Homo sapiens: one gene and its partners. The protein of the gene in region 3 purifies or fractionates together with the protein of the main gene of each other region. This does not show direct contact. Each region holds a gene or a part of one and is shown on either strand. Other genes may lie near its edges.

Region 1 (3,519 bases), on a different chromosome or scaffold from region 3:
ATTTTTTCTGTGCTTTGGTTAGTAAATTAGTATTCCCCTGGTATTCCATTCAATCTATCGTGGCATTTTAAACCTGCCTTCTGGCCAGCACAAGCTTTCTATTTTAACTTAAAGCTACTGTTCCAGGTATATGTCTTAAAGTTTCTTGAGCTGCTGGCTATATGCCATTTTTGTCCATAGTTTTCTTTCTTAAAACAGGACAGTATATCTTTGTGTGTACGTAAATTTTTTTTTTTTATTCAGACCTCATTCGTTTTAGGTAATTAGAAGGCCTGAAAGTAAAAGATCTGATCATAGGGAACTATATAAAAATAAAATACTTGTTATAACTCTTTGAGTTCAGAGTTCAGCAAAAGACCATATATTCTTCTTCTGACACCTCACTTCCCTCTTTTCATATCTCACTGGTATGTTTCCTGGTTCCATTCTATTATCTTACTATAACATTTTCTTAAGTCAGTTTTGTTATATGTTTAAACTGTGAGTCTGTAGGAAGAAGAGCAAATATGGAGTATCTAGTATTTGCTATAAACAAGGGTTGGCATGTTATAGGCTTCTAAATTAATCTTTCCATTACACTATGAGATAGAGTCTTTGACTCAAGATTCCCATTTTATAGACAAGGAGGCTCAGAGAAGTCAAATAAGTCTCCAGGGATACACATGCAGGGTGGAGACAGGATGGACCAAAACTCTTTGCTTTCTACCATATGCTTAGAACATCCCTGGTACATAACACTATTGTAAGAACTAGCTATTATTAAAATTATTGGTCTTTGTTAACCAAAATGCCTGATACATAATCGATACTCAGTAAACACTGAATACATGTATGAATGGATGAGAGGAAAAAAATGTCTCAACAATAATTTTTTAAGATACTCATTTAAAATGCATTTTAAATGGCATTTTACCTATGCAGAGCTCAGAAAAATATTTGCATAAGCTATTACTAAATAAGATAGAAATAGTAATTTTAAAAGTCAGTTTATATTGATATACTTGGAATTAACTGTTTTCTCTTTGATAGGTGTATAAGAAGTAAAAATGGGCCAGGCACTGCGGTTCACGCCTATAATCCCAGCACTTTCCGAGGCCAAGGTGGGTGGATCACGAGGTCAAGAAATTGAGACCATCCTGGCCAACATGGTGAAACCTTGTCTCTACTAAAAATACAAAAATTAGCTGGTCATGGTGGCACACGCCTGTAGTCCCAGCTACTTGGGAGGCTGAGGCAGAATTGCTTGAACCCCGGAGGCGGAGGTTGCAGTGAGCTGAGATGGCGCCGCTGTACTCCAGCCTGGCGACAGAGACTCCATCTCAAAAAAAAAAACAAAACTAAAAATGTAGTTCATCTTTTAAGTTTCAGAATTTTAAAAATGTTCAAAATGTATGTCAGTCTTTATTTCTCCCCAATTATTTGCTCCCTTTTTGAGATAATAAAATTCACTGTTAGAAAAATAAGTATCTTACTGCTTCCTTGTGTAGAATTACCTCTCATTAAATAATTGGGAGAAAATAATTGAGTTTATAATAGTTCACATTTATTGCATTCTTTTGATATGCCAGGCCAGTGTTCTCAGCACTTTTCATGTACTAATTTTTTTATTCTTAACCACAGTCCTATGACGTAAATATTATTTTACCAATGGGGAAACTGAGGCATAGAACAATTAAGTTGCTGAAGGTTACACAGCTAGTGAACGGCAAAGCCAGGATATACATTCAGGCAGTCCAACTCACTATTAATCACTATACCAGATTTACAAATTTTTTTTTTTTTTTTTTTTTTTGAGACGGAGTCTCACTCTGTTGCCCAGCTGGAGTGCAGTGGCGCGATCTCGGCTCACTGCAAGCTCCGCCTCCTGGGTTCACGCCATTCTCCTGCCTCGGCCTCCTGAGTAGCTGGGACTACAGGCGCCCGCCACCACGCCCGGCTAATTTTTTGTCTTTTTAGTAGAGACGGGGTTTCACCGTGTTAGCCAGGATGGTCTGGATCTCCTGACCTCGTGATCTGCCTGCCTCGGCCTCCCAAAGTGCTGGGATTATAGGCGTGAGCCACTGTGCCCGGCCTACAAATCTGTTTTTTAAACATTAAACAAAGCTTTTATCTTTAGCTATATTAATTTTGTAAGAGCAGCAAACATCTGAGTATGTCACTGGTTTTTCTTAAGTAGGCTTTTTCTTTTTCTTTTAAATGTAATTTCTTTTTTAAAGACAAGGTCTCACTATGTTGCCCAGGCCAGAGTGCAATGGTGTGACCATAGCTTACTGCAGCCTAAAGTACTGGGCTCAACCAAGCCTCCCGAGTAGCTAGGACTACAGGTGTGTACTCGGCTAATTTTTTAATTTTTGTAGAGACAAGGTCTCACTTTTGCCCAGGCTAATCTCGAACCCCTGGCCTACAGTAATCCTGCCTCAGACTCCCAAAGCGCTGTGATTGTAGGTATGAGCCACCGCACCTGGCCCTGCTTTTAACTTTCGCTAATATGGGAAACTAATTTTAACTAGGGTACTGGTAATTCAGATATTATTCATTTTTTTCTTCAGCACTTGGCATAATTAATGATGGGCTGAATTACCTTTATAGAATTAAATAATAAAATATAAACTAGTTTTATTTAATTCTCAAAAAAAGCATTTAGGATCAAACATAAACATCTATAAGGGAGCCAGTGGCAGTTAATAGGCAAAATCAGTAAGAGGCCTGGAAGAAGACATTTAGGACAATCCATCACTGCTTTTGAAAACAAAACTCAGTTTAATCTCAGTTGTAGGGTAGGTTGGCAGTCATATCTGCATATGAATTGAACTCATGATAAAATACTTTTAATAATGTATAAATATTAAAGTTTATTATGAGTTATGTATACAGGTTTTTAATTCTATCCTTTTCCAAAAATGAGGTCACTAACCATAATTTACTGAGTAAATGCCAAACATGTCTAAGTTGTACTTGAACATATATATTTTCAGGTTGCTTCTTTCCCAAGAAATTATAAATTATCTTTCAATACTAAGGAAATTTATGGGTAAGCTGTCCAATTACTATAAACTATGTTATTTGTTTTTTGTTTTGTTGGTTTCTTTTTTTTTTTTTTTTTTTTTGAGACAGGATCTTGCTCTGTTGCCCAGGCTGGAGTGCAGTGGCATGATCATGCCTCACTGCATCTTCAACCTTCCGGGCTCAAGCAATCCTCACACTCTGCTAATTTTTGTTATTTTTTTGTAGAGACAGGATTTTGCCATGTTACCCAGGCTGGTCTCAAACTCCTGAGCTAAAGTGATCTACCAGCCTTGCCCTCTCAAAATGCTGGGATTACAGGTGTGAGGCAACACACTCAGCCTGTTACTTCTTATTTTTACCTTTAGTTGCTTTTCATCACAAATAGAAATACAGGTAACTTAAAACATGTACTTTTTTTTATACAGTGTAGAGACTGAAGTTGGTGATTACATGTTCTGCTTTGACAATACATTCAGCACCATTTCTGAGAAGGTGATTTTCTTTGAATTAATC
Region 2 (3,519 bases), on a different chromosome or scaffold from region 3:
CTATAAAAATCCTGAAGTTCTGAGGATATAAAAAGTATAAAAGAATGCCATCAATTCTGGGGCTTTGAGAACCTCTCGCAGTTACACAGACAAGGAGTTATACAGTGTGATGAATAATAAAAGAGTGGTAACTCCTGGGAAACAAATGGTCAGTCATGTGGGAGAAGAAATGGAAAAAAGGAGAAAAGAGGGAGAAAAGGAAGAATTTCTGCTTTAAAATATAAAATCCAAGCGATTCTCATGCCACAGCCTCCCAGGTAGCTGGGACTACAGGCACATGCCACCACACCCAGCTAATTTTTGTGTTTGTAGTAGAGACGGGGTTTCACTATGTTGGCCAGGCTGATCTTGAACTCCTGAACTCAAATGATCCATCCACCTCGGCCTCCCAAAGTGCTGGGATTATAGGCATGAGCCACTGCACCTGGCCATGAACAGAACATTTTAAAACTCTTTTTTAGAATTACCTTCTGAGCAATACCAGCCATAGAAGAAAATTTTCTATTATCACTTTTTTTTTTTTTTTTTTGAGATGGAGTCTCACTCTATCGCCCAGGCTGGAGTGCAGTGACGCAATCTCAGCTCACTGCAACATCTGCCTCCTGGGTTCAAGCGATCCTCCTGCCTTAGCCGCCCGAGCAGCTGGGACTACAGGCACATGCCACCATGCTTGGCTAATTTTTATTTTTAGTACAGACGGGGTTTCACCATGTTGGCCTGACTGGTCTCGAACTCCTGACCTCAGACGATCCACCTGCCTCGGCCTCCCAAAGTGCTGGGATTACAGGCATGAGCCACCATGCCTGGCCTATTATCACTTCTTAAGTAGAAGTAATAATATTGTATTAATACAAGCCTGGGTCACTAGCTAGTGACCTTGGGCAGCTGACCCAACCTCGCTAAGGTTCAGTTTCAAAATCAGGGGTCCTACAGTTACTGTATTAAATGAAATAGCATACATTAATCACTCAGCACACTGTCTGGCACACAGTGACTGATATATGCTATTTCACCTAGCTACCATGCTGCCAACCTGAAGTGCTCTAAGTAGGTTTAGTTGGATAAGTGTCATTAGTTGGTTAAGTTGAATCTTCATAAGTGGGTGACTGGCTATTTTAAAAATCAATACAGTAGAGCCTGTATGAGTGTTCAATGTGTGGAACAGTTCGGTTCAGGAAGATATCAATGTAGTTTTGAGAAATTAGGAAAGAGTTCATGAAGGAAGCAGGATATGAACTAAGCCCTATATTGAGGAAGAGAAGAGGATTCGAAAATAGAAGAATTAAATGATCATGGGGTGAAAGTGATAATGATTATGTGGTATTCGGAGAGTATTCAGTAGTCTATGAAAGTAGGGCTATTAAAGGGCTAAGTTAGAACAAGGTTATGAGAGGCCGTGAGGGTCATGAGAGTTAGCCAGTGAGAAATTCTTTAAGATTTATGAGGAGGGTGTCATGAAAAGCAGTTTGAGGAATACATCTTTAGGCCGTGATATGTAGGGTGAGGAGGCAGGGAGACTCATTACACTACTTCCATAGATCAGGTATAATGAAAGGATGATGGCAACAGTGAGGACAGAAAGGAAATGATTAATAATCCAAACGATGATGAGGTACTTACTACTTACCAGTTCCAAATGTTCCAACTTCCTTATTTAATCCTCATAACAACTCTATGAAATAGGTAGTGTTAGCTGGGTAGAGGGTAAACTATCAGAGGTGACTGAGAAGGAAGAATTGGAGAGATAAAGAAAAATAAGGAGAGCATGATGTCCTGTAAATCAAGGAAAAGGGAAGGGGTGGTTATTTGTGTCAAATCCTGCTGAGAGAACTGGAGGTACATCTGTCAACACTGGCAGTATTGGTGACACTAACAAGAATGAATTTGATGGAGTCCTTGAGTGTGAAAGTGAGATCAGAGTGGGTTGAACAGGGAATGGAAGATGAGGACATGGGAAGAGTGAACCTAGACAACTGCTGAAGAGTTTGGCCTTGATGGGGAGATAAGAAAGAGAGGTCACTAAAGAGCAATGTGGGACCCATGCGTCATTACCCTGATGCATGGTTTCTTAAAGCATGATATCCACCTATATATGTTTAGGTTTCTCTTCTGGACAGATGTCCCTTTAAAATGGAAACTGTCACATCTTTGTATTCCCAACACCTCGCCAAGTGACCAAAAAATCAATGGTCCTTGCTTATACTTAGAACTCTTAATACTCAAATCTATCCTAACTACTTAGCAGAACCCTAACCATCTTGAAGCCAGCCATTTCCTTTGATCATGCCTGCACCCAGGAAGTCAGGAGCTGCTGGCAAAAAATTAACAACACAGATTAATTCCAAAGTAAATCCATAATCCCAAACCGTACTCCTCACTTTTCTGTCTGCTCATTCTCTCCTTTTTACAACCGCTATTTCAAATCCTCTCCACTCTCCCAGAAACTCTGATCTCTCTCCCACTCTTTACTCTCAAAAGAAGATCTAGCCTCCTGGATAACAGAAGCCTTCGAGCTGAAACTCTAACCTGCCTACCCCTACATGCAACCTCTCCTTCTACCCTCCCATTAAGGTGGGGAAGGCACCTGTCCTTTTCAAGGCCCATCTCTCTGAGGATGCCCTAGATCCCATCTATCCTGCCTTTTCTGGAAACTGACCTTGTCTGCTTCCCACTCCCTCCTACAGAATCTTCACTTTCTCTAAAGGACCCTTACTATCAACATTTAAACATGTCCAGCTCTCTCCCATCTTGGACAAGGAAGAAGGGAAGGCAGGACAGAGGAATGGAGGGACAGGGGAATGGAAAGAAATGATAGAAAGTCAGCCTGGCACCGTGGCTCACGCCTGTATCCCAATACTTTGGGAGGCCGAGGCAGGCAGATCACCTAAGGTCAGGAGTTCGAGACCAGTCCAGCCAACCTGGTGAAACCCCATCTCTACTAAAAGTATAAAATTAGCTGGGTGTGGTGGTGCACACCCATAGTCCCAGCTACTCAGGAGGCTGAGGCTGGAGAATCGCTTGAACCTGGGATGGTGGAGGTTGCAGTGAGCCGAGATTGTGCCATGCACTCCAGCTTGGTTGACAGAGCGAGCCTCTGTCTAAAAAAAAAAAAAAAAAAAAAAATAGAGAAAGAGAAATGAAAGAAAGTCTCTGAGTCCCACATTGCTCTTTAGTGACTTCTCTTTCTTATCTCCCCATCAAGGCCAAACTCTTCAGCAGTTGTCTAGGTTCACTCTTCCCATGTCCTCATCTTCCAATCCCTGTTCAACCCACTCTGATCTCACTTTCGTACCCAAGGACTCCATCAAATTCACTCTTGTTAGTGTCACCAATACTGCCAGTGTTGACAGATATATCTCCAATTCTCTCAGCAGGATTTGACACAAATAACCACCCCTTCCCTTTTCCTTGATTTACAGGGCATCATGCTCTCCTCATTCTTCTTTATCTCTCCAATTCTTCCTTCTCAGTCACCTTTGAGAGTTTACCCTCTATTTAATCTTAAACTCTTAGTGTTCC
Region 3 (3,519 bases):
TTGAACTTTGTATCTTTACCTAACATCCTATCCATCCTTTAATACTTTGGACCTGGCCAGGTGTGGTGGCTCACGCCTGTAATCCCAGCACTTTGGGAGGCCAAGGTGGGCAGATCACTTGAGATCAGGAGTTCAAAACCAGCCTAGCCAACATGGTGAAACCCCGTCTCTACTAAAAATACAAAAATTAGCCAGGTGTGGTGGCGGGTGCCTATAGTCCCAGCTACTCAGGAGGCTGAGGTGGGAGAATTGCTTGAATCCAGGAGGCAGAAGTTGCAGTGAGCTGAGATCGCGCTACTGCACTCCAGCGACCCAGAGAGCAAGACTCCGTTTCAAAAAGAAAAAAAAGTTTGGACCCTAAAACCCACTTGATACTCACTTTAACTTTGCCAGTTCTGCTTTCTCTTTGGTTACATGTGACTGGTATGGTTTTGTCCAACTTGTAATTTTGGTGTTTTTGTTTTTTGAGACAAGATCTCACTCTGTCACCCAAACTGGAGTGCAGTGGCATAATCTTGGCTCACTGCAACCTCCACCTCCTGGGCTCAATCGACCCTCCTGCCTTAGCCTCCCAAGTAGCTGAGACAACAGGCATGAGCCACCACACCCAGCTAATTTTTGTAATTTTGGCAGGATGGGTCTTGCCATGCTGCCCAGGCTTTGTTCAAGAAAACTCCTGACTTCAAAAAAAGCCAAGCCTCCCAAAGTGCTGGGATTACAGACATGAGCCACTGTGCCCAATGTGTAGTTTTGAACCTTTTCTTACTATCTTCTTTTAGATGTTTGTTGTAAACAACTGTATCTGGATTTTGTTTTCTAACCCAGTCTAAAGCAGTCTGATTTTGCTGGAACAACTGAGGGATCTGACATTTTTATGCCACTTTATTTTATGTAAATGGTTTATTTTACTCCTTTTTCCATACTTTTGATGGTTTGGGAAAATTACTATTTATTCCCTTTCTTTTATTTATTTTTTATTTTTTGAGACAGAGTCTCGCTCTGTCGCCCAGGCTGGAGTGTAGTGTTGCGGTCTCGGCTCACTGCAAGCTCCACCTCCCGGGTTCATGCCATTCTCCTGCCTCAGCCTCCCGAGTAGCTGGGACTACAGGCGCCCGCCACCACACCTGGCTAATTTTTTGTATGTTTAGTAGAGACAGAGTTTCACCATGTTAGCCAGGATGGTGTCGATCTCCTGACCTTGTGGCCCGCCCACTTTGGCCTCCCAAAGTGCTGGGATTACAGACTTTAGCCACCACGCCTGGCCTATTCCCTTTCTTTTTTTGAGAGTCTTGCTAGTGCCGTTGCGCGATCTGGGCTGACTGCAACCTCTGCCTCCCAGGTTCAAGTGATTCTCCTGCCTCAGCAGGACTACAGGCCCACCCCACCACACCCAGCTAATTTTTGTATTTTTAGTAGAGAAGGGGTTTCGCCATGTTGGCCAGGCTGGTCTAAAACTCATGACCTCATTGATCCGCCTGCCTCGGCCTCCCAAAGTGCTGGGATTACAGGCGTGAGCCACCACGCCCAGCTATTTATTCCCTTTCTAATTGTTAATTTGTAATTTCAGCAAAGGGTTACTTCCTGCTTTTTATTTTTATTTATTTATTTTTTGAGACCTAGGCTGGAGTGCAGTGGCACGATCTCGACTCACTGCAAGCTCTGCCTCCCAGGTTCACGCCATTCTCCTGCCTCAGCCTCCCGAGTAGATGGGAATACAGGTGCCCGCCACCACGCCTGGCTAATTTTTTGCATATTTAGTAGAGACGGGGTTTCACCTTTGTTAGCCAGGATGGTCTCGATCTCCTGACCTCGTGATCCACCCGCCTCGGCCACCCAAAGTGCTGGGATTACAGGTGTGAGCCACCACGCCCGGCACTTCCTGCTTCTAATACGTCTAATCATTATATAGAAACAGGGTAAGCACCGCCTCCCCCACGACTCTCTGCCTCCTTCTGCCCCACCCACCCCAGTAAGAGCTACCCGAAGAAGGCTCCCATCCCTGCCACCTTCCATTGACATTTTCCTCATTGAGACCGTGAGACTCAATGCACAACGATGCCCTCTCCTTCAATCTTGGGGTCTCTACTCATCAACTGCCATTTCATTAGAGCCTTTCTTTTTTTTTTTTTGAGACAGAGTCTCACTCTGTCGCCCAGGCTGGAATGCAATGGCACAATCTCAGTTCACTGAAACCTCCACCTCCCAGGTTCAAGTGATTTTTGTGTTTCAGCCTCCCGAATAGCTGGAATTACAGGCTCCCGCCACCACACCCGGCTAATTTTTGTATTTTTAGTAGAGGCGGGGTTTTGCCATGTTGGCCAGGCTGGTCTTGAACTCCCGACCTCAAGTGAGCCACCTGCCTCGGCCTCCCAAAGTGCTGGGATTACAGGCTTGAGCCACCAAGCTCGGCCCAAAATCTATTTCTTTCTTTTTTTTTTTTTTTTTGAGATAGTCTTGCTCTGTCACCCAGGCCGGAGTGCAATGGCGCGATCTCGGCTCACTGCAACCTCTGTCTCCCGGGTTTAAGTGATTCTCCTGCCTCAGCCTCCTGTGTAGCTGGGACTACAGGTGCGTGCCACCACACCCAGTTAATTTTTATATTTTTAGAAATGGGGTTTCACCATGTTGGCCAGGAGGGTCTCGATCTCTTGACCTCGTGATCCACCCATCTCAGCCTCCCGAAGTGCTGGGATTACAGGTGTAAGCCACTGAGCCCGGCTCAAAATCTATTTCTTAATCTGGTTGGGGAACAGTATGAATGCTCTGGTTGAGAATCCTGGGCCCAGGCCAGCCTTGGTCCTCTGGCTTTCAGTGCTGCAGATGAGAAATCTGCTGCCAATGTTTTTTTTTTTTTTCTCCTTTGTCAATGGTTTATTTATTCTGTGGGAGGTCGCTGAGATTTTATCTGTGGATTTCAAGAATGTCACCAGGAGATGCCAAGGGTGTGTCTTTTTCTTTAAAGTAACCCTGCCTGGAGCTCTACCAACACTTTCACTGTGCAGACTCATGCCCTCTTCTGATCAGGGAAAATTTCCACTATTATTTATTCATCATATTAATCATCTCCAGACCTGTTCCTTCTTCTTCCAGAGCCTCTAACATTCACAGGTGAATGAAGAAGCAACCACCAAGCCTATCTTTTCTTTCATGACTTCCATTTGGGTTTCTGATTTTCTGGGAGGCCTTTGCATCCTGGAAACAGGAAATCCATCCTCTTTTCCACTTCAGCTTTTTAATTTTCTAAAGCTGAAAATCCTCGTTCTAGAACCTCTTTTCTTGGGAAGTATCTGGATTTCCCTCGGTTTTGGAAACTGAACACTTGCCCAGGATGTGCCACTGGACTTTACTTCTCCCTCCAGCAGGGGGCCCCTCGAGGCCCCTCCATGTCCCTTGAAGCTAGGTCCAGCTGTGGGGTCCCCTTCCTGTGGGTGCATGGTCACGCCTCTGGCCCCAGACCTGCCCAGGTGACAGCAACAGCAGCAAGGCGTGGGAGGGAGAGAGCAGAAAGACCCTTACGCC
Region 4 (3,519 bases), on a different chromosome or scaffold from region 3:
TAGCTGAGATTATAAGCATGCACCGCAACACCTGGCTAAGTTTTCATATTTTTAGTAGAGACGGGGTTTCACCATGTTGGCCAGGCTGGTCTCGAACGCCTGGCCTCAAGTGATCCGCCCGCCTTGGCCTCCCAAAGTGCTGAGATTACAGGCGTGAGCCACCGCGCCCAGCCTAGAGGCATTTTTTGAAAAGCTCTCTAGATCATTCATTATGCAGCCAGATGAAGTAGCACTACTCTCGTACATACATTAATATGCCTTTATCAGAGTACGTTTTTAATTTGTCTCTTGTTTTTAAGTCTACAAGATCTTCAACTCAATGTATATTTATGGTGTACAAGTTATATGTGATATCACATATTACACTAGGTGTAAATGATTTTGTATCCTTGTCCTCAAGAACCCTACAGCATAGTTGAGAAAGATAATATGTAAATAAAAACAAAATATAGTGATATAGGTATTATAGCAATATAGGGACAAAAAGAGCCTGGTTTATTATATCTGGATATGGGGTTCAATCAGAAAAGGTTTCAGAGAGGACATGACTCCTTAAAGAAAGGACTTATCTAAATTACTTTTATGTCTCTAACATCTCTCACAAAAACTTGGTTAACAGCCAGTCTCAAAGTTGTTACACTTAGACCTCAACTCTCCACTTCAGAAACCCACTCCAAGGCTACACACTAGATCACATTACATGAGAAATGCTCTACCTCTGAAATTGCTCACTCCAACAACATTCAACCGTCTGACCACAGTCTTTAATCTTTCTACACTTTTCACCACACTTTACCTTATCAAGTCCTCCAGTCTCTTAAGTGTCTCTATTTTATCTTAGTTGATCATTTTCCTTTGCCGTATTTTTGCATATTTCTATTGTTGGACTTATACAGCATTATAATTTATATACAAATGTGTTTGCTTTGTCTATTAGATCATAACTTTCCTTAGAACAGATTAACGGATGCTTTTTCTCTGTCTTTAACACCCAACATCTTTAACAGCCAGCCAGTGCCTTATCCTTAACTCATTGCTCAGAGTAACAAATATTTGGTGAAGGAATAAGTAAAGTGCTCTAGTCATTTTCACCATTATACCATGAGATCTGCAAAGGTAGAAACTATATGTTACCTGTATATTTCCTACAATTAATACCAGACTGCCTCATACATACCAGCGTCTCAGGGAGTATCTGTTGACTTATAAAAGGTTGAAATGTATTAGGGACTGCAGGCAGGGTGTATGGTTCACACCTGTAATCCCTGAGCTTTAGGAGGCCGAGGCAGGAGGATCATTTGAGGTCAGGAGTTTGAGACCAGCCTGGCCAACATGGTGAAACCCCATCTCTCCTAAAACACAAAATTTAGCCGGGTGTGGTTGCAGATGCCTGTAATCCCAGCTACTTGGGAGGCTGAGGCTGGAGAATCACTTGGACCAGGGAGGTGGAGGTTGCAGTGAGCCGAGATAGCGCCACTGCACTCCAGCCTGGGCGACAGCGCGAGACTTTGCCTCAAAAAAAAAAAAAGAAAAAGAAAAAAAGTATTAGGTCCTGCAAATGACATATAAAAATATGTTTTATAGCCACATGGTTATAAAGCACATGTAAAAAATGTTCATCATAGCAGAGGCAAAATGATGCAAGAAAGAGCACTAGATAAAAGTCAGGAGGCCTGAACTTCAGTCTTGGCTTTGCCACTTTGTGATCTACAAATAACCATCTCTATAAGCCTTAGTTTCCTCATTTATTTTGTTATTTTTTTAGTCTAATCTATTGGGGTTTTAAGTCTCCTCACTTATTAAAATGTGGTTTGATCAGAATAAGATTCTAGATCATTAGCTCTAACATGTGGTGCTTTTCAAAAAAATTACTATAAAAGTGATACACTATAAATACTTAAAAGTTGTATATGCCCTTAATTGTTTTGGTAAAAGAAAATTCCACTCTATTTTTTTTTCTTTTTCTTTTTTTTTTTTTTTGAGACAGAGTCTCGCTCTGTCACCCAGGCTGGAGTGCAGCGGCGTGATCTCAGCTCACTGCAACCTCCGCCTCCTGGATTCAAGCAATTCTCCTGTCAAGGCCTCCCGAGCAGCTGGGATTACAGGCGCACGCCGTCACGCCTGGCTAATTTTTTGTATTTTTAGTAGAGACAGGGTTTCACCGTGTTCCCCAGGCTGGTCTCGGACTCCTGAGCTCAGGGAATCCACCCGCCTCGGCCTCCCAAAGTGCTAGGATTACAGGCGTGAGCCACCGTGCCTGGCTCCACTCTATTTTTGTAACTCACTTTCCAGAGGCATCCACTCTCAACAGTTTCTTTTGTATCTTTAAGGCGTTCTTCATACATAAGCTAATACACTGCTAAGATTCTTGATTTTACCAACTGGACAGTCCTATAAATTCAAATGGAGCCTTGCCAAAATGAAAGAAAAATTACTTTGATAGCAGAAAGAAAACTACTCAGAAAGCCAACAGCAGAAAAAATTAAAATATACTGAAATAAGTATTTAAAACTTCATGTAGGGCTGGGCGCTGTGGCTCACGCCTGTAATCCCAGCACTTTGGGAGGCCAAGGTGGGTGTATCTCCTGAGGTCAGGAGTTTGAGACCAGGTTGACTAACATGATGAAACCCCATCTCTACTAAATACAAAAAATTAGCCAGGTGTGGTGGTGCATGCCTGTAATCTCAGCTACTTGGGAGGCTGAGGCAAAAGAATCACTGGAACCCGGGAGACAGAGATTGCAGTGAGTGGAGATTGCGCCCTTGTACCCCAGCCTGGGCAACAAGTGTGAAACTCCATCTCAAAAAAAAAAAAAACAAAAAAAACTTCATGTGTCACCTCCTGTTTGTGTGATGTAATGTGAGTAGAAGACATATGACAAGAAACTTCGGGTGGGAAGTTTCTCTACAGGAAGAAACGTGGGAGGCATGGGGGAAAGGAGAATCATACTAATGTCACAACCACAGAAGGATGTACAAAGGGTGAAAAAATTCAGAGAACTGTAAATACTAAAATAGCAAACTAACTGTGAAATGCACTATGAGCTTAAGGAGAGTCAACTGTAGAAAGGATGCAGTTGTTATCTATATTAAAGCCAGCCTAGAGGGAAGTGTATATTAACATTAGGCCCTTTTCTTCACAACAGCACCCTTTGAAGATCTACATCTAAATCTAACAAGGGCTTTCACATACTGAGAAGTCAAGGGTGAAATAATTGTGTTTCTAAGTGGTTTCTTCTAATGGTGGGGAAAATTTATCACATGATGACAGTCATCATAAGAATTTTTTTAAATATAGAAAGAAAAAAAAAGAGAAAAGGTAGGTCACTGAGAAAGTATAAAGTTCCACGAGAATAGGGCAAAGTCCTCTCTAATGGCCAGACTATTAATTTCCCTTTCATCTGGGTACCGGAGAATATTTAAACATTAAGTAAGGAATGTGTTATATAGAGAACCAAGCTTTTAACATCTGTAACCACGTAAACAAACATAAATTTCACTTAGATATGTCCCCATTTT
Region 5 (3,519 bases), on a different chromosome or scaffold from region 3:
AGAATTTAAGCTAAAATTCAACACTTTTCTTAACTAATTTAACTGGTATGGTCTCCATAGTAGTCCACTGTTTTGTTTCCTGTGTTAACTTCCCTTTTGTTTCAAAAGCTCTTAGAATAAGGAGTCAACTGGATTTTTATGTCCATGGACCCCTTGTGATTATATGCAGTGTACGCTGTGTGTGCGTGTGTGTGTGTGTGTGTGTGAGAGAGATCCTTTTACTTAGAAAAAGGTCTACTATGCTCATTAGAAGATCAAAAGCAGATTCTCCTTACTTGTAACATAGGAGTTTCAGGATTAATCTGTATTCAAGCTCATTCTATATCCTTCATCAAAGAAAAGACAATGTTTTGTGTCTGTTGTCCCTCTCACACACAGCCCTAATATATAATGTGTAACTGCCTTATCTGCAGCCCTAAACTAATATAGCTAGAGGTCTTCTAATCATTCTCCTACCTCTAGGAAAGAAATATAGTCTTGAAAACTGCCAATCTGGTGTGCATACAAAATATATACAAAATACCAAGGAACATTATATGAGCCTTTTGCTAGGTATATCTAAGCAACTGCTTCAGTTAATGGCCACTTTACAAATTGCTGAAAGAAGGAAACGTCTTTCGATTCTTTTTTTTTTCTTTTTTTTTTTTTGAGACAGAGTCTCTGTCTGTTACTCAGGCTGTAGTGCAGTGGCACAATGATAGCTCCCTCCAGCCTCAAACTCCTGGGCTCAAGCATTCCTTCTGCATCAGCCTCCTGACTAGCTGGAACTCAGGCTCATGCCACCAGACCTGGCTAATTTTTCTGTTTTCAGTAGAGAAAATATTTTCTTTCACTAATTTAACTGGTATGGTTTCCATTGTCTACCCAGTTTTCCATATGCATAAGAAAATATATTCACAGGAAAATATAAAGTTTTCAGATTTCATGAGTGGTTTTAAGAAAGTTTTAGTCAGTGAAAAAACTATCATACCAGTCTTCAAAGGAAGGGTGAAATAAGTTCATCTGCTACGTTGCCCAGGCTGGTCTTGAAGGGAAACAGACTTTTTTGTAGTCATACTTATCCTTTGGCTTCTTAGTAAGTATTATATAGTCATTACTTTTTGCAGTTTTTTAGATCAAAGTGTTAATGTAGGTAAAGTTAATTTTAGAATATATGTAAAAGTCAAGTCTGCTTTAAATTTAATCATCTCTTTGGTGAAAGGGATGGGATGGAGCTTTGCTTTTTATCATATATTCATCTGTACCTTTCAAGTATTCAAATAGAAAAATATAAACAATGTAAATAAAATAGCAAAACAATGTAATATCTCATAAAACTGCAATGGTAAAAGCATTTATCCTATTGAAATTCCACAATTTTTATTTGAAAATATTATCGACATGTAATTCAAGTGGCATTTAGAAGAATAATTTAAAAGCAACAACTCTATAGAAAGCTTGTAAAATGATTAAGTAGTTTAAACCAAATAAAACAATTTCTGAGTCAGTCATCTCCAGTAGGTCTATTTTAGTCTCAAGATAAATTCATTTCTGGTGACAACTGAAGTTCTTAGTTATTTGTTAGTATATATTGGAGACATTTACAATAAAGCTTAGAGCACAATGGGAAATGAAAGTATCATGTTTTTTTTAAGACCAAATGTATTGCAGAAATGTGAGTAATTTAATCCGATGCTACAATCTGATCATTCTGATCTAATCTGATCATTTAATAACACTAAATAAAACCTTCATCTCACATTCTTTGGCTGTTTCTTTTAAAATATGGGTTTACGGATAAATCAAATAAATTCAAAACAAAGTAATAAGCAAATGATTTTTTTTTCTCAGTAATCTAGTAGAGTATTACATTTAGAAGTAATCTGTATCTCAGTGCAGTAACTATTTAGGACTGTAAGCGCCGCTGTTCACCTACTGGAAGACAAATGCAACCGAAAACACTCAGATCTCACACCTCACGAAGACCCGCAGATGCCACAAACTAACTGCTGGACTGCAGCGAAACCCGACCCCTGTTTGGAGGCACTCCAGGTTTCCGGAGGATTGTCATCTCCATAGCTGCGGCAAGAAACTAAATAAGACCCATTTATGCACAGTGAAGATTCTGAGAGGATTCTGCAGCAAAACAACAATGGCCGCTCCACAGAGTCGCCCCAGACGCGGCGAGCTGATCCTGCTGTGCGCGCTGCTGGGAACGCTGTGGGAAATCGGGAGGGGACAGATTCGCTACTCTGTGCCAGAAGAGACGGACAAAGGCTCCTTCGTGGGTAATATCTCCAAGGACCTGGGGCTGGACCCCCGGAAGCTGGCGAAGCACGGAGTCCGTATCGTCTCCAGAGGTAGGACGCAGCTCTTTGCTCTGAACCCGCGCAGCGGCAGCTTGATCACCGCGGGCAGGATAGATCGGGAGGAGCTCTGCGCTCAGAGCCCGCGGTGTCTGATAAATATTAACACCCTGGTTGAGGATAAAGGAAAACTCTTTGGGGTAGAAATAGAAATAATTGATATTAACGATAATAACCCAAAATTCCAGGTCGAAGATCTAGAAGTAAAAATTAACGAAATCGCGGTTCCTGGAGCACGTTATCCACTCCCAGAAGCTGTTGACCCGGATGTGGGCGTGAACTCCCTCCAGAGCTACCAGCTCAGCCCCAATCACCACTTCTCCCTGGACGTGCAGACTGGAGACAATGGAGCCATAAACCCAGAGCTGGTGCTGGAGCGCGCCCTGGACAGGGAGGAAGAGGCTGCTCACCACCTGGTCCTCACGGCCTCGGATGGCGGCAAGCCGCCTCGCTCTAGCACAGTGCGCATCCACGTGACAGTGTTGGATACAAATGACAATGCCCCGGTTTTTCCTCACCCGATTTACCGAGTGAAAGTCCTTGAGAACATGCCCCCAGGCACGCGGCTGCTTACTGTAACAGCCAGCGACCCGGATGAGGGAATCAACGGAAAAGTGGCATACAAATTCCGGAAAATTAATGAAAAACAAACTCCGTTATTCCAGCTTAATGAAAATACTGGGGAAATATCAATAGCAAAAAGTCTAGATTATGAAGAATGTTCATTTTATGAAATGGAAATACAAGCCGAAGATGTGGGGGCACTTCTGGGGAGGACCAAATTGCTCATTTCGGTGGAAGATGTAAATGACAATAGACCAGAAGTGATCATTACGTCTTTGTTTAGCCCAGTGTTAGAAAATTCTCTTCCCGGGACAGTAATTGCCTTCTTGAGTGTGCATGACCAAGACTCTGGAAAGAATGGTCAAGTTGTCTGTTACACACGTGATAATTTACCTTTTAAATTAGAAAAGTCAATAGGTAATTATTATAGATTAGTGACAAGGAAATATTTGGACCGAGAAAATGTCTCTATCTACAATATCACAGTGATGGCCTCAGATCTAGGAACACCACCTCTGTCCACTGAAACTCAAATCGCTCTGCACGTGGCAGACATTAACGACAACCCTCCTACTTTCCCTCATGCCTCCTACTCAGCGTATATCCTAGA

The links.
Region 1: the proteins of SLC25A29 (region 3) and TMED5 purify together in Homo sapiens (co-immunoprecipitation; one large-scale study listed by IntAct). This does not show direct contact.
Region 2: the proteins of SLC25A29 (region 3) and OSTM1 purify together in Homo sapiens (co-immunoprecipitation; one large-scale study listed by IntAct). This does not show direct contact.
Region 4: the proteins of SLC25A29 (region 3) and SLC12A6 purify together in Homo sapiens (affinity purification with mass spectrometry; one large-scale study listed by BioGRID and IntAct). This does not show direct contact.
Region 5: the proteins of SLC25A29 (region 3) and PCDHGB4 purify together in Homo sapiens (co-immunoprecipitation; one large-scale study listed by IntAct). This does not show direct contact.

The regions. Positions count from the first base shown.
Region 1 is NC_000001.11:93,156,396-93,159,914, reverse strand, and holds part of TMED5 (transmembrane emp24 domain-containing protein 5 isoform 1 precursor), read left to right. Parts: intron 1-1,029; coding exon of another isoform or gene 1,030-1,100; intron 1,101-3,431; coding exon 3,432-3,519. UniProt on the Homo sapiens protein: Potential role in vesicular protein trafficking, mainly in the early secretory pathway. Required for the maintenance of the Golgi apparatus; involved in protein exchange between Golgi stacks during assembly.
Region 2 is NC_000006.12:108,064,729-108,068,247, forward strand, and holds part of OSTM1 (osteopetrosis-associated transmembrane protein 1 precursor), read right to left. Parts: intron 1-3,519. UniProt on the Homo sapiens protein: Required for osteoclast and melanocyte maturation and function.
Region 3 is NC_000014.9:100,299,935-100,303,453, forward strand, and holds part of SLC25A29 (mitochondrial basic amino acids transporter), read right to left. Parts: intron 1-3,519. UniProt on the Homo sapiens protein: Mitochondrial transporter of arginine, lysine, homoarginine, methylarginine and, to a much lesser extent, ornithine and histidine. Does not transport carnitine nor acylcarnitines. Functions by both counter-exchange and uniport mechanisms.
Region 4 is NC_000015.10:34,331,268-34,334,786, forward strand, and holds part of SLC12A6 (solute carrier family 12 member 6), read right to left. Parts: intron 1-3,519.
Region 5 is NC_000005.10:141,390,683-141,394,201, forward strand, and holds part of PCDHGB4 (protocadherin gamma-B4 isoform 1 precursor), read left to right. Parts: intron 1-1,950; exon of another isoform or gene 1,951-2,131; coding exon of another isoform or gene 2,132-3,519. Other genes in the region: PCDHGA8 (protocadherin gamma-A8 isoform 1 precursor), read left to right, coding at 2,132-3,519. UniProt on the Homo sapiens protein: Potential calcium-dependent cell-adhesion protein. May be involved in the establishment and maintenance of specific neuronal connections in the brain.